Regions from separate parts of the Homo sapiens genome. Here all the other regions are linked to region 1. The links come from fine-mapping of genetic effects on gene expression. A gene starts in region 1. Each other region holds a variant in brackets. All regions are shown on one strand. Distances are between the middles of the regions.

Region 1 (7,829 bases):
CTGGAGTTGGGTATTTCCAGTCCCTCAGGTCAGCTATTTTCTGATAAAACTTCAGGAGATTAGACTCTGGTTAACTAGGTTCTCCTGTGGGCAAACCTTGTTAGGAACACAATGTTCCGGTGTATTTCAAAATGGCTCTTTTTTCCCTCCCACTGCTTGAAGCACAAGGGAAATTTTTTCCATTATTCATTGTGAGAACCTGGTTGAACACCTGTAAGTAAAACTCATGAAAGTGTGGAGGCCTCCGTGGACTGGGTTCTCCTGGAATTTTTATCTCAGATTTGTTCACACAGTTTCCCGGAATTTGTCAGCTGTAGTTCAGGTTTTTCTACCTCCCAACTGATTCTCTGGGAGGTTTCTGCACCAGCAAGCCAGGACCCCCTGTGTTTGCCTGTTGGTCTCTCCAATTTGGGGGGACAGTGGTTTCCCCTGTGACCCAACCTCTATGATAGATCTAAGAAGAGTCGTGGTTTTTCAGTTTGCTCAGTTTTTATTTGATAGCTTTGAAAGATTTGAGTGCTTTCCCTATATAATTTTATTAAAACAGTTTGACCTCTTGGGTCTATCCCACCATTCACCATCACTTGGGAGCTATGGAAGATGTAACTATAAGCAAAAACACATGTTTTAAAAGCAACTTCACTGAGTCTCTACTATGTGCAAACATCTGTGCTGTGGATCATACGCAAAGGGATTCCCTTAAGAACTTGGTATCCTGCAGCCATTGCATTCATTCCAATAACTTACTATTGATCAAAATCTATTTAGAACTTCTCTTCTAGCATTCCTTCAACTGTGGAAATTGTCTGTGGTGGATGAATATTTTTGAATGCCTTCTATACAGGTCCCATAAGTGGGATCTAATATTTGATTTCAGAAACAACCAAAACACCAAATCAAAGTCAAGTTGTTGAATAAGGTTTGAATCCAATGAGGTGACACAATTTTTTTTGTGATGGAGTCTTGCTCTGTCGCCCAAGCTGGAGTGCAGTGACGCAATCTCGACTCACTGCAAGCTCCACCTCCCAGCTTCCTGCCATTCTCCTGCCTCAGCCTCCTGAGTAGCTAGGACTACAGGCACCCGCCACCACACCCAGCTCATTTTTTTTGTATTTTTATTAGAGACGGGGTTTCACTGAGGCAACACAATTTTTTAACATTGACTGGTTCTCTCACGTGGCTATTAAATTTCTCAAGGCAATTTCAAAAGTCATTATTAAAAGTCGAGCTGCTCAAGACATACTCTATTGGTTGGACTCACAGCTATATCTTATTTTAATCTAATTTTTCATAATAGGACTTGCTTTATTCATTGTCTAATTACCTATACTTAATAGTAAGATTGATCTTTTCCCTCCTGGAGAGCAAAAGGCCAAAGTTAGGAAGTGTGTTTCAATCCTCCCTAAGTTTACAGTACATAAACAATATGTTTGATATTCTTGGTTTAATTTACCTTCCCTTTCTCCCCACCTCCTCTGACACATTGACATGTTTTCTATTATTTAAACTCATTCTATTATTTAATTTATATTATTTAAACTCTTTCTATTATTTAATCTGGCAACTTTGTACCAGATTACCTTTTCTTCCTAGAGTTTTATTCTATTTCCTGGTACATTTTCCAGAATGTTCCAACACTGACTTTCCTTAAAATGGGGTTTGTGACACCATAAAACATCTCGTTCAAGCCAACCCCACTTCCAGCTGCTCTGTTATGGTGTTCTGAGCCAGTCTGAAAAAGAATCCCTTAACAGTGCTACTTCACAGTTATATGCCCAACTCACAGAATCACATTTTGCAAACTGTGCACTTTAGATTGTAACTGAAAACGGGGATGTCTCCCCTGACTCTGGCATGACTCCAAACATCTGAAATGTTAGAACATGTTGCTTTTATGCTGAACCATCACACAATTGCCTGAGTGCTGAAGGGGCTTGTTTCCACTACTGCTACTTTAGAGAGAGGGGGGCAGACAGAAATGGCTTTCTGTAATAAAACACGTGTGCTTGGGTGACAGGAAGGGGAGGGGAGCAGAGGAGTGAGTACCAGAAAGACGTCATTCAATTTAGCCATCTTCCATCTGAAAATAATGGAAGAGGACACTAAAAGAACATTGTAAAATCCCACCTTTTTAGACTCTGAGAACACCTAAGAACTGAGTAAAATGCCATTCATCATCAGGGTTAAAAAGTCAGATTTCTTGGTCTCTAGGATGAATCCCTTTGGGCAAATGCTTGGGACCCTAGGATCAGAAGATGAGTTATTGATCCTAACCTGAAAATAAAAAATGTCTGGATTGAATGCTTTAAGACAGAGCCCCTTCCCTTTTTTAGTCTGATTTCTAGAGCAGCTTTCTCCCAGATCATAACTGCAAAGTCTGTTCACTCTTGATAAATATTTAAAAGATGATGAAAAAATGAATTTCTTACAACTCATTGCCACCAGAATGACTTTTAGTTTCTCAGGTCGATGGGGGAGGATGATGGGAAGAGATGTCACTGATTTGGGGTAGGCAAACAAGGTCGACCTCCTATCACTTCATTCATTCAGTCAGTCAGCCGGTCGACACACATTTACCAAGCAACCACTGTGCCCCAAGCATCTAGGAAGGTCTCGTGGGGGACTGCACACTCTTGCACTGCCCCTAGGAGGCGCCCTCTCTTTCCCTTTCTGTTTCTCTCTCCCCTGACATTTCAGGAGTCTCAGGGGAAAATGCAAATGCGCCAAGAGACCCTAACTCAGAGCAAACATGACTAGTTCCAACAGAAACAAACTAGGCCTGAGGTAGGTTTCGGGAAGGAACTCAGAGGCTGGAAAACCTGGTCTGCCACTGCCCTGGCTGGTCACTCAGACGTTCTGAGCCTTGGTTTTTACCATCTGTAGAACGGGCGGTGGAATAAATTATCCCTAAAACCTCTCCCAAACTTAAGCTTCTACTTTTCCAAGATCCTAACGAGCCTTTGTGTCGCCAGGGTGCAGAAATGCACTGTTTCCACTACTGCGCGCTGTGCACCCTTAAAAAGCATCGCGTGATGTGGTCATTCCAAACACACACACACACACACAAACACACACACACACACACACACACCTACCTCAGCCTCCCGCTCCTGATTATGCGTTTAAAGTTCTTAGGTGATCCCAGGTTCGCAAGTGCTCAGCTATAGCAAGTTTCCTTTAATTTTAGGTAGAATTTGTTCATGCAATACTTTCGCACTGAGTACTGCAGTGGAGTCAGCTTCCTTTCCAAAGCCCAGGCAACAAGGAAAAATCTGAAGTAAAGACAAAAGCTCTCCTTTGCCTTGGGGAGAGAGTAAGGAGCTAGTAAGGGGCCCCATGATGAAAAGAACCTAAAGCGGGAAACATTGTGTTTTCCTGCTCAGAGGGTAATGCTGGCTCCCTAGGGCTATGTCCGGGGTTCTCCAGCCCCACTCCAGGGCTCTGCTTTCCCGACCTTGCTACCGTGATGCCCCGGCCGGGAGGCAGGCGGTGCTCGGGTGCAGCTTCGGGGCTAATCCGAGGGCTGCGTGTCAAGCCCGCACATTGAGGCCTGCGGAGAACTGAGACCCCAGTCCCCGCAAGCCCAGCCTACGCAGGAGAGCGCTGCCCTCTAGCGACTATAATGGGACATGCAGCGCGGCCGGAGCCCCGCGGGAGCAGCGCCGCTGCAGGTCCTAGCGACTGTAGAAATCAGCCCTTTGCAGAGGGCGCAGAGGGCCTGGAAACCTCTGGGACCTTTTCCCAGGAACTGTTTATGGTTTCCCCCTAGGTCTAGGAGACATAGATGCATAGGTGGATTGGATACATCGATGGTAGCTATAAGGTAAGCAGACAATGGTCACAGATGGAAAGGTGGACGGACGGATGACGGATGGTTAGAAGATGTTTTGAGGGCTTGCTATAGTGCCAGGCACAAGGCTAAGAGATTTCGTCCACTATTTCATTTGATTCTCTCCAGAACCTTATGAATGGCATATTACCTCTGTTCCTATTTTTCAAATAGGGAAACTGAGGCCTCAGGCAATGTAAGCAGCTTGCCGCTTAGCAATCTTTTGCAGAGCCAGGAAGCGGGAAAGCGTGTCTTAATGGACAGTACCAGCCTCCACAGTGTGCCCTCGGCCCCCTCCCGGTGGAGAAGAGGTTCCAAGCCCCGGCGTCCCGGGTAGGGTGTCCCTCATCCCTCCCTCCCCACCACACTCCTGGCGCGCTGACATTACACCCGCCCCGGCACCCCCCTCTCACTGATCCAACACCCCCGGACACCCTGGACAGCGCTCTCAAGGCAGTAGGTCTTCGACTTGGGAGCCCCGGGGAGCTGGTTAAACACGGATCCTCTCCCACAGTGGCTGAAAAGCGCGCAGTCCCGGAACCTGAGGGTTTACCTGCTTCTACGCTTGGCCAAGGGTCTCTAACTGGAAAGGTGAAAATTCTGTCCTGAGATTTTAAGATTCCCAGAAACTTTCAATCGTTCAGTTCCTGTAACCATTAATTGAGCGCCTAAACTGCGCACCTTGACGCTGTTAGATGCTGCAGTAAGGAACTCGGAGTCAAGTGTGGGGGACAGGTTGGTCAATAAATGACGACATTCCGGACGGCTGTGCTTGGTGCCCACGGGGACCCGCGAGGGGGCCCAGGGAGGAGGCGGGAAAGGGGCAGGTTCACCGGCCCGCTGGGTCTCCAGCACATTCCAGAAGTCTAAGCCAGTCCATCTATCCTTCCAAACGCCCCCACCTCGCTTCCCTCCCTGGAGCCCGCATCCCACGGTGCAATTTCAGTGACTTTATGCGGAGAAACTTGATCCTATCTCACTCTCCCCAAACTTCCTAACTGCCTTGGGTTTGTCACCTGGCCGTGTGGGGAGCCACCGAGCGCCCCCTGTGGCCCCCACCCGAGCTCGGCGGGGGGAGCGGCGCGCGGGTGCTGGGGGACCGACCCCTCCCGCGAAGGCGTCGGCGCGGGGCTGGCGTAGGGCCTGCGTCAGCTGCAGCCCGCCGGCGATTGGGGCGCGCGCGCCTCCTTCGGTTTGGGGCTAATTATAAAGTGGCTCCAGCAGCCGTTAAGCCCCGGGACGGCGAGGCAGGCGCTCAGAGCCCCGCAGCCTGGCCCGTGACCCCGCAGAGACGCTGAGGACCGCGACGGTGAGGCCCTACGTCCGCCAGCACACCCGGGCCCGCTTCTCCCCGACGCCCGCCCTCCTCACACTTGCCTTCTTCTCTTCCCTCTAGAGTCGTGTCTGAACCCGGCTTTTCCAATTGGCCTGCTCCATCCGAACAGCGTCAACGTGAGTGAATTTGCCCGAAGCTTGTCTTTGCTGAGCGGGTTTGGGGACGTCTGCCCGCCCTCTTTCCCTTCACATTTCATTGCATGGGTTCCCCAACAGCGTTCCCTGGTTCTTCTTTGTGACCCCAGTCAATGTCCTGCCTCCCCCGGCTCCCGCTCTCTCGCCCCTGGTCTGCGGCGTTCTCTCCGGAATCTTGCCCTGGGCCGCGGACGCCCAGGAAAAGAGCCGGGTGCCCCAGGCAGCCTCGCGTTGGGGGCGACCGCGCCATCCCGGGAACCGCGAGGCGATCTGAGTCGCCTCCACGTCTACCTAAAAGCTGTCGGCCGGGAGGGCGGGGCCCCAGAAAGGAGCATTCCTGCGGGCTTTTGCTCGACGATCCCCTGCTGAGGCTGTCGCGGCGAGGGTCCTGCCGAGGGACCCCGTTCTGCGCCCAGGCAGGCTCGAAGCACGCGTCCCTCTCTCCTCGCAGTCCATGGCGCGGTTCCTGACACTTTGCACTTGGCTGCTGTTGCTCGGCCCCGGGCTCCTGGCGACCGTGCGGGCCGAATGCAGCCAGGATTGCGCGACGTGCAGCTACCGCCTAGTGCGCCCGGCCGACATCAACTTCCTGGTGAGTGTTGCGCGCGGCGAGTGTTGCGCACCTTGTGAGACAGAGTTTCCGCAACAGTACGCGGACTGCCTCCGGCCCACCGCGCGGCGCGTATGGCGGTTCGCACCGGGTCGGAGCCGCAGCGGCGCGAGCCCGTGGTGACCTGGGTGTCTCAGCTGTTCCTGGAACACTGACTGAAGTCCTGCCCTGGCTCTTAGCTTCGGGGATCCGCGACTATCTGGGGACCGGTAAGGGTAGCGGTGTCGCCGCACAAACCAAGTTTGTTTTAACCCTGGGAATTCGGGAACCCCGAGAAGTCCTCTGTTCAGCACCTCGGATAGCACTGGGTTCTCTCCTGGGCTGTCAGAAGGAAGATGGCTGTCACCACAACTCCTAACATATCCCAGCTAAGGGCCCCTCCACACGCAGTCATCTTCCCATCTTTCCCACAAATAATGTAATTTTTTGTTAGTGACATTTCGGTGCCTTTCTTTAGATTTATGTTCCCCAGCTCTCTTAACCTCAGGTCCCTCATTCCCTACCCTCACCTGTAAATAGGAGAGAGCAAAGGGATGGAAAAGGGGTACGGGGAGAGGAAGGCGAAATAACCGTAGACAGGAAAGAGTTCAAACTGTCTCACTAGCCAGTGATGCTGGAATTCAACTTCTGTTTCAACTGCCCTTTGTAATAGTAACTAAAACAACAGTTTAATTTGGCTATGAGAAAGGAACAAGAGAAGTGGCCAGTGTCCAATGGGTGACAACAGTCCAAAGATACACTGCACTACAGGGGGTTGGGGAAAGAAAAAGCTGAGGACAAAATAACTTTCATTCTGATCATGGTTCCCCATGGGCTGTCGAATCACCTCTGGTGCTCTACTGAGTCTGAATCTCCAACCTCGAGACTCAGGTAGCTTCACTTTTACCAGCTCCCCTGACAATTCCTTTGCATTGCTTTTGAAATTTGTTGAAATTTTATGGTGACTTAAAAAGCTCATAGAGAATAATGTATTCATCCAAGCTGCTTTGGGTTCCACCTGGAATTGAGGAAATTTTACCTTATGTAGATGTTTGAAATGGGGAGAAAACCAAGGAACAGTTTCCAAATATCTGTGGTATATATTTCAGGTTAAATGTTTGTTTCTTTGACCTGTGCTAACTTGGCATTAAAGAGAAGACACATAGGAAGGTTGTATATTTAAACTATGAGAAAAATGTTTCATCTTCAATAGGAGAAACAATCCCCTTCACCCATCTTTCTTCTTTCTCCTGTAGTCATGAGCTTTTAACCTATGCCTAAAAATTGAGCCAGTGCTACAAATATAAGGATAGATCTTGTGGATAAAGAATTTTAGACACAGAAGGAGGAAGAAAAATCCAAAACATGCCACATAGAAGACTCCACTTTCTGACCCCATAATTCCCTGTGCCCAGTCACACATATTTTGAGCTTTGCCTGCTCAACATGTCAGGGGCTCAGCCCCCTCCCCTAGCTTTCTCTGCCATCTGAATAAAGGTTATATGGATTCTAGTCTAATTTTTCTAATCACACAGACTGACCCCAAAGTAGTATCATATTTACTTAAATTATGTGAGTTAGCGAATTAATATGACTGACTTTTAATCATGCCTATTCAAATGGGTTTTTTTCATACTTAATCTATTTGATTCACCAAGCTCCCAAAATGCTACTAATCTTCCTTTTGCATTGTTGAGGAACTTGAGCAGAGCTCACTGGGTAGCAGCTAGCTCTTCCCTGGGTATCACCTCAAATCTTGACTTCTCTCCCTCTCTCACCCTCTTCTCATCATGTAACAGGATTGTGGGGGAGGAGAAGAGGAAGGCTGCTCTTTCCAGAATTTTCCATACTGCTTTTTATGCTCTTGTTGTTATCACTTATTACTATTATCATTACTTTAATCCAGGTGATGGAATGGCACGTGTAGTGTTAGCAACTTGA
Region 2 (7,829 bases), 250 kb before region 1:
GTTCATATTTAAAAAAAACAGCTTTAGCTTTGTTGAAGTTTTCTATTACACAGAATTTTCTATTTCATTGTTTTCTACCTTTTAGGAATTGTTTCTTTTATCTGTTTCAAAAATAATGTGTTGTTTTTCTAGCTTCTTGAGATGGATACTTATATCATTGTCTTTCAGTCTTCATTCTTAATATGTGAATTAAAGGCTATAATTGCTTCTTTAACCACAGTTGTGTTTGAATCTCACAAGATTTTATACATCATGTTAGAATTATCATTCGGTCTAAAACATGTTCTTATTTTTATTGTAATTTCTTTTTGAACCCATGAGTTATTTACAAAGAAATTCCTTAATATTAATAAGAATTAATTAATTAGTATGTATGGATTTCCTAGAAATCATTTTATTATTCCAATTCACATCTAATATGGCCAAGAACTCAAATCCAAATTCTATGTAATTTGTTTTATGGCCCTTTATTAATAAGTGGTCCACATGTGCCTCAAAATATAGGGTTCTCAGAAACATGAGGCAGAATGTTCTGTATATACATTTAGGTCAGGTTTGTTAATTACCTGTTCAAATCCTCTATGGATCTTGCTCCTTTTATTTGTAACTGGGAAGAATATGTTAAAACATTCCATTATGGTTGCAGATTTTTTTCCTTTTAGTTCTGCTGGAGATATATATATATATATATATATATATATATATACACACATATATATATATATACATATATATATATATACATACACACACACACACACACATACTTTTATATACACACATATATATAGCAGATATATATGTGTGTATATAAAAGTATGTATATTTATAAGTGTATATGTATACATTATAATATGCAAAATATATATGTATTATATATATTTTTTGGCCTATGCTATAAGAAGCCTACCAATTATGAAATGTTATGTCTTTCTAATATATTGACCCTTTTATTATTATAGAATGTATTATAGAATGTATTATCACTTTCATTAAAGCCAATTTTGCCTGTTAATATAGTTTTAACAGCCTTCTCTCGGTTATTTTTTAAGACTTATCCATCCTTTTACTTTCCACTGTTCTATGTTTTTATATTTATGTGACAAGCATCATATAGTTGGGTTTTGTATTATTATCCAATTTTAAAATATTGGTCTTTTAATTGGCTTATCTTTGTTTCCTTATCTTTCATTTGCCTAAATAATGTGCTTTAATATTTCTTTTAAAGGCTTAATGACAATGAATTTTCTCCTTGTTTTAATTATCAAAAATATCTTTATCTCTATTTTTAAGGATCTTTTGACAAAGCAAAGAATTCATGATTGACAGTTGTATTATTTTAGCCTTCTAGTGATATAATTCCATTGTAATTTGTCTTCTTTTAATTCTGTGGGAAAATCAGCCCTTGATCTTATTGTTCTTCCTTGGAAGGTTTTATCATTTTCCTCTGCATGCAAAAGAAAAGATTAATCTTTTCTCTTTGATCTTTAGCAATTTACCATGATATGCCTATATGTGAATTTATTTTATTCATCCCATTGCCGTTTTATAGAACTTACTGAATCAGTGGTTTGAATCTTTCACATTTTGGAAGAATTATCTAGTATTTCTTCTCATTTTGCTCTGTCCTTCTCTCCTCTCCAGTTACACCCACTTTAGATTTGTACTTATGTCCTACATGTCTATTACATTCTCTATTTTTCATTCCCTTTTTATGTGTCCTTTAGTTTGAGTATTTCCTCTTGACCTAGCTTCTGCTTCACCAAATACCTTTTCTGCTGAGTCAAATTTCCTCTTAAATTAATCTCTTATTAATTTCAATTAATGTGATTTTCCAATCTAGAATAATTACCATTTGACTTTTTTTATGGATCCCAGTTCTCTGGCTAGTCTTCATTGTATAGTTTATTTTTTGAACATATTTGTCACTGCTATTGCCAGGTCTGAATCCTAAACTTTAATATCTAGATCACATGTAGGCCTATTCCTAATAGATTTTCCTGCTCTTGGTTTTGGTCTTTTGGACATTTCCTGACACATATAATTTTTGCTTGAGTGTTGGGCATTATACAACATTTCAGGGACTCTATGACATGATCTTTCTACAGAAAGGATTGAGTTGTCTTCTGTTAGGCAGTCAGGAGTTGTAGAGCATGCACTGATCCATTGATTGAGATGATTCAAGATGGATTCTGTCCATTGTCAGATTTTGTCCATTTTGGTTTTCCCAGAGTTTATCCTTTCAAGGGTATCTAATGAAAGTCTGGAGTGATTACTAGAAATTCTCTTTTTGGCAAGCTATAAACTCAGACTTTTGTGTCCTTATTCCCATGAGATGACCTGAAGCTCTGCTTGGGCTTTGCCCCTCCACGGCTCTCTCTACCTAATTTTGTCCTCCCATTCCATGCAGTGTAGGAACTGGTGAAGGCTTCAAGGGAAAAACCAGTTGTAAAATGTTGGACTTAATTCTCCAGGATCCAATTTCATACAGAATTTTGGTCCCTCAAGTCCTGGCTGCCTTTACAACTTTAAACTCCCATTATTTTCTTCTAAGGTCACTGAGACTATCAAATGCTGAGCCACTTTCTGCTCAGCCACCATGATCTGTGTGCTTAGGAATCAGTAAATAGAAAAGTATAGTAAATATCACCCAATGCACTTTATGGACTTGGTCCTACAAGGCCTGGTGTCCTTGATTGTCCTCCGGTGCCTTAAACAACTGGATTTTTTGCTTGTTTGTTTTATTTATATTTTGTTCAGCATTTTTCGTTTCTCTTGGTGACAGTGTTGATAGGTTGTTTAATATGTTGATAACCTAACAAGCTACTCTGTCAAAGTTAACAATAGAAGTCCTAATCATTCTCTTATAACATGTATTACAAAAAGTGACCTTCAGAGGTTAATGATATAGAATTGATAGCTGGCAGCCTAGTAGTGTTTTCTTTGTTAGAGAAAGACTTCCCAACTAAAGCAACTCACAGTAGAAATCAAGTGGAGAGAGGAAGAAAAACCCTATATGGTGTCTTTGTGTATATTACCCAAGAGAGGAATGGATCTTATAAATCTTTAAATTTTAATTAAATTCCTGATGTCTTGTTGCATTAGAAGAATAGTGGGGCCACTGAGGCTGGGATATTTCAGCTACATCAAAGAGATTGCCTTGAAATGCTTTCTGTATAGTGTTATTTGATATTCATGTTTTTCTTTCCCTCAAAGGTACGTTGAGCTCAAATGCAGTTCTCTGCATTTAAACTGCATAGACTTAGGAAATGAAAGTTTTCAAATAACTTGAAATGGTTCCTAAAACTGCAGTTTTATTTTGTTTAGAATGGGTGAAGCTAACACAGTTGGATTTCATTTATTCTTTTTTTTCTCTTTTACACTGTATAGCAATGGAGATTCAGGTTACACTATTATTTTAGAGAAAGTAATAAACTGAATGTGACATTTTCTTCCCTATGCATTGATCTTCTCATTTGAAATAAAAATAATTTCTCATGAATTAGATTTTAGGACGTGACACATTAGCTGCCTCCTGGGGACTGTGTACCCAAGGTCTTCCCCTTGATGCATTCTCTCAAATGCCCCTCATTGATCCAGGACCCAGGCAATTTTCTCACTCAGTCACTGCGGATAACAGCCACCCACAGATTCTCTTTTTGGACATTCTGTCAATTTTTTGACTTTTTGCTGCAATCTAAAAGACAGAGTGAACAATGTAAACCGAAAAATTTCAGGGAAATGGAAGAGACATAGGA[A/G]TATACAGGCCTTTCTCATAAAAGTCAAAGCCAAAATCCTCTGAGACTTGAACCAAAGAAAAGCTCTCCAAAGTGAATAAACAGGTTTGAAGTGTTTGCAGTGCTGTTTATTCATTACAGACTTGGCACAGAATAATAATACTGAAGATGTTTTTGCAGCTGATATATGAAATGGTGTACTAAGTAGACATTGATAAACTTTATTTAAGAGCCTACGGATTACAAATTTAAGCTATTATAACACTGTAGGCTTGATGTGCAGCTATATTACAGAAAAAAATTAAAAATGAGAGCTTTCAGACAGCAAAGAGTCACTGGCCTGGTCAAAATTTGAAATCTACAAAATTTTAGGCAATATGATGTGATTTAAATATCTGAATTGTTCTTGCACATAATTACTGAACCATGAAATAAGAAAAATAAAGTGAAAATTATTTTCTTTTGTAAAACAGAAGATGGAGGAAAATCAATCCTAGTTTCAGCGAGGTTTTGCAGTGCATGTGCAGGCTACGTTAATGTCACCCAGGAGCTTGATTGACAGATGCTCAAATGCCCAGCCCTATCCCTGCCCCATCTACTGAGGAACCCAAGCACCTGAAGTTCCACAAATGCTGCAGGTGATTTCTATTTATGCTATCATTTGAAGAACACTGATTTAATGTGACTGTCTATTAAAGTTTTATGCAAATTGCTTCCGTAAGTTTATTTTTTCTCAGAAAACTAATTCAGGAAATAACCTTTATAAGCCTGGATGATACTCAGTACCTTATCGGACTATGTTTTTGTATTTTCACTTACTGGCTTTGTTTTTAAATAGCCACAGAGTAGGTATGGGACACTGGGGGATGGAGAGCACATGACAGGAAGTAAAGGCAACTGAAGTTTCCACTGAGGTTGGGAGGAAATGGCCCGTAACTGCTTCCTATTCATCGTTTTGTGCAGATTGAGTTCTGTTGCCTTAGTGTGCTGAAGAGAGCCAAGGTACAGCCTGAGGTTGTAGTGGGTTTTATGCACATATTTTTGTTTTTCTTTAACCATATGAATCTACTTGGGGAGTATTTATAGGAAAAGCTCTAAAGGCAGTCAAGCACTTTTAGATTTCAATCTAAGTAGCCTATAAGTGAATGTTAAAGGGCAAAAAGAGTCCTTCAGTTTTTCAGTTAACATCCCAGGCACTGTGCTTGTGTTATGGATTTAAAAAAAAAATAAGTGAAAGGTCCTACTCTCAATAAATTTTGTTAATTTAGGAGGAGAAACCAAAAGCCAGGCAGGCAGTTAACGAAAGTATTGGCAGTATCACCATAAGAGTATAAGACTGATGTTGGGAAAAGGACCTAGCCCAGTGTGGAGGATCAGACAGGGCGGGGTTCCCTGAAGAAGTATAACTTAAGCTGAGACATGGGGGTCAAATAAGAATTAATTCATGAAAAACTTCAGGAAGACCAAGAAAAACCATTATTAATGGCAATATCCATTCATTCATTCGTTTGATCATTTTATTCATTTCATGCATTTATTCATTTAGTGACTTATGCATGTGTCACGTGAAAATCACTGAGCTAGACCCTAAGGACACAGCTGTGAAAATGCCAGACCTGGCAGCTATCGTCATGCAGTAGGAGAGACAGGAGACATCTTCCATTTCTGTTTTCCCCTAGAACTGTCTGCGGCAAAAGAAAGGTTCTCTGCACTGCCTAGTACTGTAGCCCTAACTACTGGGGCTATTGAGCATTTCACCTGTTTCTAATGTGACAGAAGACATAAATGTATAATTTAGTTTTAATATACACATGGCTAGTGGCTACTTTATCTACTGCAAGAGTGAAAAATTTCTAATCTAGATCCCCATAGGAACTCAAAGATGGGAACAAGTGGCATCTTAAAAATGGGCTCAGATGGAAAAGGGGCTGCCATGAAAGGATGGAACTTGGGAGATGGGATGCTTCCCAGCAAAGGGTGGTGGTGTGCATGCTCCTTGTAGTCAAGGTGTGACTTTAGCATTAATGGAGCCATGTCACCCATGGAAGGTACTGCTGTGATGTTATTTTGAAGCATGGATGAACTCATAAGTCAAAATTTTGCCAGAGGGGAACAGGCACCTCTGCTCACCTCTATTTTCATTCCTAGCAGGATTAAATTCATATTGTATTTGCTGAGCAGCCCAGGTGTTTAAGAAAAAGTTGTCATTCAGATTGATGGTACTTTAAAAAAAATCCATCAACATACAAGGAAAAATATCTGTGGTGGAGAGTTGAGTGACTCAGATTTAATAGCATAGCACATGAGACCACTGTGTTCCCTAGTTTTTTTAAAAAATGAATTATTGCCTTTCCCCTGTAAGCCTAGCAATATGGAAAGAGGGAAAGGAGGCTTTTCAAAGGAAACTGCTCTTTGGAATATTAATGCATTTATATCATGTGTCCACTGATTTATCTAACTAATATTTCTCCAATATTTTGTCTTTTGTCTTCAAATAGTTCTATCCAAACTGTACTGACTTAATTTTTCTACTATTTTTAAAAGCATTATCTATGAAGTTTTACTTTATAACTTGGAGAATTGATTTTTCATACAGTAAGATGGGTTTTCTCAGACTATCAAACCTTAAAAGTGGTATTTTGAATTTCTACTAAAGTCAGCATGTAGAAGGCTATAATGACATTCTCCTGGATCTTAAATAGGGGGTAAAGAATCTCTGGGTCTTGAGAACACCCCAAAGGCGAACTCTATACTTAAGCCACAAAACATCTCTCTGGAATAAGATAAGGAGACAAGGTCCCAGGGAAGGGAGGGAGGGAAGAAATGAAAGAACAGAGAAACAGGAAATAGGAGTAAAGGAAAAGGAGGAGGAGAAGGAGGGATGGAGAGACAGAGGGGGAGAGTGGAAAGAGAGAGAGAGAGAGCAAGCGAGAGAGAGAGAGAGCACATCATCAAAACACAACATCAAAAACTCCAGGCTATCTTCCAACCATCTAGAAAGCTAAAAAGTGTCATCAGATGATTCCCTGATTTGGCTGAAATAATCCCCATAATATGTTTTTAGTATTCACGATCATTTTTGAGTACCCTGATATCAGCAGGAGGCTACTTTGGAAGCCAGATGCAAATAAGTGTCTCAGAAATTAAAGACATCTTCCCCCATTGGATATCAATAAATCAGTATTCTAGAATTACTATTCTAGTAATATGTATTCTTGTTTTAGAGACTTGGTTAGTAGTCTGACCCCAAGAGGTCAGTCAGTTCTGTGTGGATAGAAAAACCAAATCCAGTTTCTGAACGGAAAACCTAAGGCCCACAGCCTGCAGAATGATGTATCACCCTGGTTATTACCACCCATGGGGACAGACCACATGACCATGCAGCATCAATCTCAGACTGTTCTCATTCTCGCTCCTTGACTGCAGTGTCCTTTGCTCATCTTTTTATTTTTTAAAATTTCAGTCATTTGAATTACAACCTGCTTATTATAATAATTCAAAAGGCAGTAATGTATTCAGAAGGAAGTTAATAGTGTATATTGCACATCTCCAATACCACTTCACCAGTGGCAGCCTGTGCCTCTCATTCATACCTTTTCTTTGCTGGTACATCTGTGCACCAACATAAAGATTTTGATTTAATTTTTAATACAGATGAGATTCCACTGTACATAGTATTTTGTGATTTGCTCTTGTTGTATTATATGGTTGCTATGAGTTCCAGATCAATGCACATATATCTGCTTCATGCTTTTAAAGACCTTCACAATAGTCTCTAGTATGAGTTTATTAAAATGTAGTAATTCTCTCCCTGATTGAATATTCAAATTTATTTTAAATTTTTGCTACTCCAAATGTGGTGAGATAATATTTTTGATATACTTATGCCTGACTTCCCTTTCTCTTCCATCTCACATATAGTCAGGGCCCCTATATTGACTGCCTCGGCAAGAGTATAGAGAGGTGAAGCACAAATGGCCCAGAAGAACTGTTATAGACTGAATGTTTGTGTCCCCCTAAAATTTATACATTGAAGCCCTAATCTTTAGTGCAACCGTATGTACCTCTAAGAAGGTAATTAAGGTTAAATGA
Region 3 (7,829 bases), 67 kb before region 1:
GCAATCTGTAGTTTATTTTAAATTCTGATACATTAAAGATGTGGAGAACTACATGAAATCATAGGAAATTTTTCATTCAAATAAAAATTGCAAAGAGCCATTCCTAAATGGCAACCTGGTTTTAGCTGCAAAGACAGAAAGTGATAAGAAGAGACCCCGAAAATATAAGTTATGCAAAATGTCAACTTATACATAGATGGCTAAACTCAGGGTTCACTGTCTGGACTTAGCAGAGAACATGTTTGCAGAAAAAGAAAATGGAGGCCGGGTGCAGTGGCTAATGCCTGTAATCCCAGCACTTCGGGAGGCTGAGGTGGGTGGATCACCTGAGGTCAGGAGTTTGAGACCAGCCTGGCCAATATGGTGAAACTCTGTCTCTACTAAAAATACAAAAATTAGCTGGGCGTGGTGGTGTGCGCCTGTAATCCCAGCTACTCAGGAGGCTGAGACAGGAGAATCGCTTGAACACAGGAGGCAGAGGTTGCAGTGAGTGGAGATCGCGCCACTGCACTCCAGCCTGGGAGACAGAGCAAGACTCCGTCTGAAAAAAAAAAAGAAAGAAAAGAAAAGAAACTGGAGACTAGTTATTATCATCAGGAAAGTCAAATGATGGAACAAATAGAAATGAGAATCTGTAGATAAAAATTATAGATTCACATAGCATCAATTCTAATTTCAAGTTTGATTGTCTGGTCCCAGTAGGCTCTATCTATAGTTCAATTACGATCAATGCTGTATTGACGTTGACAAAATCTGAAAAAGATGCTTCAATGAATGCTTAAGTTAAATAGGTCTCAAACAAAATAAGGAAAAGGAAAAGAAGAAATAAGAAGGAGGAGGAGAAGAGGAGGAGGAGGAGGGGAAAGAGGAGGGAGAATCAAGCTATCTATTTCATTAAAGCCATCTCAAGCAGCAAACTTTGGACTACATTGTCATCACTATACTAGAAATAGACTGTGTCTATACACTAAGTATACTGTAGCAGGTTTCCATTACTAGCCAGCCTCCAAGACCACTGACTTAATTTTCTGCTGTTTAGAGTCATGCATAATTTAAATTGATCAAATACTTTTCTAATGCTCTATTCCTATCCCAGATGTAATATACCTTTCTATTCCTTGTCAAATCTTAAGAAATAGTAGCCCTAAGGATGCAAAGTTGCTGAAAGTGCATCAAGGCAAGAAACAAATTCCTCTTCCCTTTATTCCACAAACACTGTCCTCACCGACCTGAGGTTTCCAGCAAGGGAACTGTATATCAAGCAGGCACAGGAATTGCCCCTGGTGTTCAGGATTTACAATCCAAGAAACAGCATGTTAGCAAAAGTACTCCCCTAAAAAGTCATCTTGGCTTGTTTTGATTAAGTCTATTTCCTTTTTTATTTATAGTAGAAGAGGTGCCGGACAACTCGTATGAAAGCATACCGTATCTCTTGCCTTCTACAGAACATGCAATTGTTTCCTACCCGTGGATCTCGTTTCTAAATGAACATTTATGGTCCTCCATAATCTGTCTCTGCTTTCTTCTGCTCATATTTATCTTCCTGTACTTCTCAAAATGAATCCTAAGTTCTAACCAGGACAATTTTCTAACTGTTTTTCCTACTTACTCTTGTTCTCTTTTTTTTTTCTCTTTTGAGACAGGGTCTTGCTGTGTTGCCCAGGCTAGAGTGCAGTGGCATGATCTCAGCTCACTGCAACCTCCGCCTCCTGGGTTCAAGGGATTCTCCTGCCTCAGCCTCCCGAGTAGCTGGGATTGCAGGCTACACCTGGCTAATTTTTGTATTTTTAGTAGAGATGGGGTTTCACCATATTGGGCAGGACATCCAGTGATGTGCAGTCTGGGACTAGGATGGCAGTTCCATGACGTTGCCAGAGCCCAGGTCCTCCGATTGTTCTGACCAAGCACCCTGAGGAAGTGGCTTTTGTCCTCACAGTGTCCTCATGGTTGTAATCCACCTGATACTCCTCCTATATCCCATACACAGGCACGGAGGACGAGCCAATGGCCGAAAACTTCCTTCTCCAAGGCTTTGCCTTTTAATTAGAGAAGAGAACCTTTCCCAGGAAGTTCTATGTACATATTATTGGCAAAGACTGCCTGCCCTGCTACCTACCTTAAGCTACACACAAAAGCTGGGAGATTGAATATTCAGCTTCCCAGTGTCTAAGACAAGGGAACACAAGGGGCTGGGAGATTGAGATGCATGTTGAATAAGCCAACCTATAGTATTTGCTGTACCTTCATAGTCAGCTTATAAACCTATACATTTATCAAAGAATTCGCCCTAAATCTACCCTTGAAAAAACTGCATTAACTGTGGATATTCACAAGGACATGTCATGGACTCTGCAGGCAATTCCAAAAAAGAAAATGCAAATATAATTTGTACAATAGCAGCAACATTGAAATAATTATTCAGATTCCAAGAGCAACTATATTAAAATGGACCACATTCATCTAAACAGATGTCTTCTTAAATGTTTGGGCTTTAAACCAAGTCGGCATGTCACTGCAGAGTGGCGTGTTTACTATATTATTCCCACAGGATGCATATGCACACATGTGGGTTTCTTGAAAAGGTAGGAAGCTCTTTGAGGGTGGCCTGTGCTCTGTGCCTTTTTGTTACCTCTATTGTACCCAGAAGGGTTCACGATAGAATACACTGAGGTGTACAATTTAACTCACAAATGGACAGGGTGATAGGCAGCCACAGATTTTTGCTGGGCACTTAGGGCATCTTATTTTATATTTTTTTGTTTGTCTTTTGTTTTGTTTTGTTCTTTTAGACAGAGCCTCTCTCTGTCACCCAGGCTGGAGTTCAGTGGCGAAATATTGCTCACTGCAACTTCTGCCTCCCGGATTCCAGCAATTCTCCTGCCTCAGCCTCCCGAGTAGCTGGGATTATAAGCGCATGCCACCACACCTGGCTAATTTTTGTATTTTTTGTAGATACGGGGTATCACCATGTTGGCTAGGCTGGTCTTGAACTCCTGACCTCAAGTGATCCACTGGCATTGGCCTCCCAAAGTGCTGGGATTACAGGTGTGAGCCACTGCACACCCGGCCTACTTAAGGCATCTTAATATTATAGTTGCACCTAGCAGAGTTCTTGTATGTGGTAACTACTCAAGTCTTTTCTGTATTGGATAAGGCAATTCATCTGCCATAGGCTAAACAGGGGTGACCCTTTTTCTGAGAAACTGCTCTAGAAATGTGTGCTAGACACTTCTGACATTTCTCATTTTCTAGCTATTTAGTTGTCAACTTCTTTGAGTAGGGAATACATATAAGTAAAAATAGAAAGAGCAGCAGCATTGCACAGCTCCACAGGCATCATTCTTATCGGAGCTGACGTGAGGGGCATCTCCGGAGCTGTGCTCTGTATGACCCATGTGGCTGTATGCAGCAGGCCTTTGGGAATACTGCAAGGGACATGGCCTGTACCGTCCTTATGCATTTAACGATGAACGATGGCTTAGAAAGAAAAAGTATTCTGCAGGATCAAACCTCAATTCAAAGAATGCTTTGCTATTAGATCCGTGGCTAATTAGACCCATTTTACGCATCATATGGCAAACAAGTGTTCTTTCTCCCTTCGATGAAATAACCTGTAAAGCAGATGAATTTTGACATTTCTCATTGAGACACCCAGGATGGTGAGGAAGACCAACAACACTGTCCACAATGCTGCCCTGTGATGTGCAGGATAAATGTCAGATGTGAATTCGGATTTGATTCAAGGTCTCATGAAAGCTAAATGCCACTCAGAACACCAGCTCACCCTTGTGAATTCTGACGTCAGTGTTAGGCGCCACTGAAGCCCCCTGGTTTCTACTTTTAGAGGAGTCCAGTTGCAGTATGTAGGTCAAGCAGCTCAAGAATGTCAACTGCAAAAACTTTGAGGGCTTTTGTGAGCCAGTTCCTGTCACGACGGTAGCTCAAAGTTGGCCATGATGAAACTATTTACACCAAAGAAAACCACAAATCAGTGGGTTGTTTTTTTTTTTTTTGAACTGGTTGGAAAACGTTTATGAATGCACCACTGATCATGTGTAAAATGAGAAAGCAGCTGCAGCCTCATTGTTACCTGGGCAGAAACACCCAGGTCACAGTCAAAAAAGCCAGGGTGTGCTAATAGAAAATCATTAAACTCTAGGAAATAGAGTCAAATGACAAGTATTCAGCATCTACAGATGTTCTACCCCATGCTGAGTCCTGCAGAGATGAAATAGAAAGCTCAAAGCCAATTCTCTGACTTTAAAGAGCTTTCGACTGACTGACTTCAAACTATGATCATATTCCTAAGAGCAAACACTCAACGAATCCTGGCTGTGTGCCAAATGTCTGTCACCTCATTTCATCCTGAAAACCTGATGGCATTGTTCCTGTTATTAGCCTCATTTTGTAGATGAAGAAATGGAGGCTTAGAGAATCTTAGTCTATCATTCAAGTTTGCACAGGAAGTGAGCAGAGCTGGGAGCCAGCCCCAAGCAGACAGAAGCACCTGATGGTGACCCCCACAACCCAAGAGCACAGTGCAAGTGAGGGCGGGTCCACGCCAGGGCTGTGTGTGTGGATCAAGGGATACCCCAGAGACACAGGAGAAGGACAGACCCGACCGAGAGGAGGCAGGAGGCCACAGGGATGAAGGCAGAAGAAAAGTACAGAGCTGGGGTGAGCATGGGGTGGATCCCAG[G/T]CCATCTCAAGGATCTCCTCCAAATGGGCCTTCAGAGGCAGATGTGACATCACCTCCCCATGAGAAGCTGCCAAAAGGCAATGCTTGGGCAACCAGCTCCTCTACAGTGGATGAAGGAGAGTGAATCTAAACACATCGCTATGAAATTTCCCTTTCCTTAGAAACTCTAAGTCAGTGCTCCAAATTCTCATTCCCCACAATTAAAATTGAACTAAAACTAATGTTTGTTTCAGTGTACCAAAGCATATTTTAATAAGATAATTACAAAAAGTCTGCTGGTAGAAATTACACTTTGCATTCATGTCATGGTTTAAAGCTGATGCTGCTGGAAATTGTAAGACTCTAGTCTAGTATATCTAAAAACAGATTAAGTACTAATTAATGATTTCCTCTCTTTAGTGAGCCTGACATCTCATTAACTAATTATCATCAATCTTTAACTTTTTCAAAGCATGATGTTCTGCCTGCCAAGGTTCTGTGGGCTGTCTTCTTAACACTGTGGTACAATTCTCCACCCTGGCTCCAGCATAGCAAAGCTGTGCTACATGGAATCAGATACTCTGTGAGCCAGGCTACACCCTCTGAGATGCATGAACGCCACACAGAAAAGCTTTAGTGAAATAGCTGCTAAAGTAGTTACAGTGCTTTCCCTGCCCACAAATGCCAGAACTAACCAGGGCTCAACTGGCTGTGCAGATGCACAGTAGACAGAGAGAGGAGAGTCCTTTGTCTGTGATGGGCGGGGACAGTGCAGTGGGAAGGGGGCTCTCCCAGCTTCCTTTCTTTCCTCTGACATCAGATATTTAGAAAGCAATTCCACTATTCCACAATTCCACTTTGGAAATGTTTCTTGACTCAGTTTCAGCAAGACACTAAATTAGAACACAATCATCCCTGCTTTTGACTTATTAAAGGAATGACAATTTAATATTATCAAAGAAACAGACTAAAATCTAAGTTCAAGATCACTCATTGAAGCATTTTTTATAATAATGAATATTTAGAAACAATATAAATGGCTAAAATCAAGTAATAATTTATTTTTATCATGACATCATATATCATATAGCTATTAAAAAGCATGTATTTGGCCGCGTGCGGTGGCTCACACCTATAATCCCAGCACTTTGGGAGGCCAAGGCGGGCAGATCATGAGGTCGAGACCATCCTGGCTAACACGGTGAAACCCCGTCTCTACTAAAAATACAAAAAAAAAAAAAAAATTAGCCGGGCGTGGTGGTGGGCTCCTGTAGTCCCAGCTACTCAGGAGGCTGAGGCAGGAGAATGGCGTGAACCTGGGAGACAGAGCTTGCAGTAAGCCAGATCACGCCACTGCACTCCAGCCTGGGTGACAGAGTGAGACTCCATCCTCCCCCACCAAAAAAAAAACATGTATTTGAAGACTATCAAATCTCATGGGGAAAATGTCACAATGTAATGTCAGGTGAAAAAAAGCAAAATATAAACTTTATTATTTCAAGTTTAAAACAAAATTTATGGGTGTTTCTGTGTATATATATGTGCACATGTATATGTAAATAGTGATATTTTGTGTATTGCCAATATTAAATACATAACATATTTTAGCATATAAATATTATGTAATCTATATTTATATATAAATAGTATAACAGATATTTGTAATAATATGTGTTTAATGTATATTTCATATTGGATACGTAAAATTTTGCTAGTTATTTCTGAGAAGTTGCTTTGCAGAGGAATTTTATATTATTCTTCCTATTTTGAAATATTTCTTAATTCTCTATAATAAGCACATATAATTGTATAGTTAGAAAAACATTTAAGAACGCTTGGATTAATTTGGTAACCAGCACACTCTTCCTAGACATAAATATCTCATAACACTTCACTCACTGCTTCCCTAACAAACTGACTGTTCCTCTTGCTACACTTCTGTGACCGTGGGCGCCATTTCTGGCCTGCTCTCACCCTCCCTGGCTGTCTGTGAAGGCTGATGTGTCCCCATCAATCCAGTGCACATAATTGGAGCTCCGCACACCCTCACATGCTCAACTGTGCTCCAACCAGCAGGCAGGGTAGAGACAGTGTTATATGACAAACAAGTGAAGCTGAACTGTCTCTGGATATTAGACGAAAAAAAATTGGGTTTGCCCTTGGCTAGGGACCTATTCCACCAATTTATCACCAATTAGCTCCCTCCACCACACTCACTCATCCCTGAGGCTGGCTCAAAGGAAACATGAATGCCTGAGCTGTGGGTACTGCTGCTTCTAGAACAGTGTAAAGCTTTGTCCATGAGCATCTGTATCAAAGTCACCTGTGATCCTTTTAAAAAGTGAAGTTTCCAAGCCCTGTGTCAGACCTACAAACCAGGGCAGTTTTCTTACTGTCAATGAAAAGCAGAGCTTTTAAAAGAATGTACTTGAACTGAATACATGAAAATGAAACCCAGTATGAAGTCACCCTGAGTCACTCTGGGGACTTGAAAGGCAGGTCTCCTGGGACAGAATGAGTGCCAAAGCCCAGGAGAGATGGGGAGAGGGGCATCCACCAGGCAAGCCGCTGCCCCTGGAATTCCGATTTAATAAGCAGACTAGGGCTTGTGCACACCAGAGGGTTGCATGACTTTTCAGAGGCGAATCACAGCACCCGTCCGGAAGAGCGAAGGAGCAAGAGAGGGTTAACATGGCCTAGACTGGATAAAGATGACTGGGCATTGCAGTCACCTACAACCCAAGTGCTGACTAACAGCCAGGCTCTCTGTGTGGTCCTAACTTCAGCATCATTCTGGCAGGGATTTTGGGCAGCTTCAACCCAAAGAAAGTCCATGGAGAAGGCTTGGTCATCATCAGTTCCACTGGGTTCTTCTGGAATCCTGATTCTTGCCTTATTGGCTCATAATTCACATCCTTGAAAGAATTCCAGAATACCTGTGTCCACTTAATTTACTAAATCCCTAGTATTGGACTCTGAGAAGTTAGACGTCTAGAAATAATAGAGCTTTATTGGGATGTCCCACATAAGAATCACATTAAATAGCCCTGAGTTGGTGGATAAAAAAGCATAGAATCATAATACGTGAAATGTTTAAAATTACCTTATAGTTCATGTATATTTCATTCATTTTGGTATGCACTCAAAAAAT

Alleles and levels. Alleles are on the strand shown, and positions count from the first base shown. SD is a standard deviation of normalised expression in the study named. Not every link is listed here.
In carriers of allele T in region 3, the expression in left ventricle of the gene that starts at base 5,066 in region 1 tends to be lower than with G alone (small effect, 0.33 SD a copy in GTEx).

The links. PIP is the estimated chance that this variant, and not a neighbour inherited with it, causes the effect.
Region 2: its variant is the best candidate, but not a certain one, in a credible set for the expression of PENK in tibial artery (GTEx, PIP 0.50).
Region 3: its variant is the best candidate, but not a certain one, in a credible set for the expression of PENK in left ventricle (GTEx, PIP 0.85).

Annotation. Positions count from the first base shown.
Region 1 is chr8:56,443,878-56,451,706 of GRCh38, reverse strand. PENK (proenkephalin) reads left to right here and starts at 5,066. Exons shown (of 4, transcript NM_001135690.3): 1 at 5,066-5,138; 2 at 5,226-5,281; 3 at 5,751-5,891. The coding sequence starts at 5,754. PENK-AS1 (PENK antisense RNA 1) reads right to left here and starts at 5,900. Exons shown (of 4, transcript NR_125813.1): 1 at 5,207-5,900. RefSeq lists an enhancer at 5,404-6,295.
Region 2 is chr8:56,696,088-56,703,916 of GRCh38, reverse strand. The region is part of intron 1 of LOC105375852 (a long non-coding RNA gene); the gene reads right to left. Among named protein-coding and RNA genes, the nearest start is that of LINC00968, 140 kb to the right of the region's middle. The variant A/G (reference allele first, on the strand shown) is at 3,759.
Region 3 is chr8:56,510,547-56,518,375 of GRCh38, reverse strand. The region is part of intron 2 of PENK-AS1 (PENK antisense RNA 1); the gene reads right to left. LINC00968 (long intergenic non-protein coding RNA 968) reads left to right here. Exons shown (of 3, transcript NR_038236.1): 3 at 1-58. Among named protein-coding and RNA genes, the nearest start is that of LINC00968, 45 kb to the left of the region's middle. The variant G/T (reference allele first, on the strand shown) is at 4,700.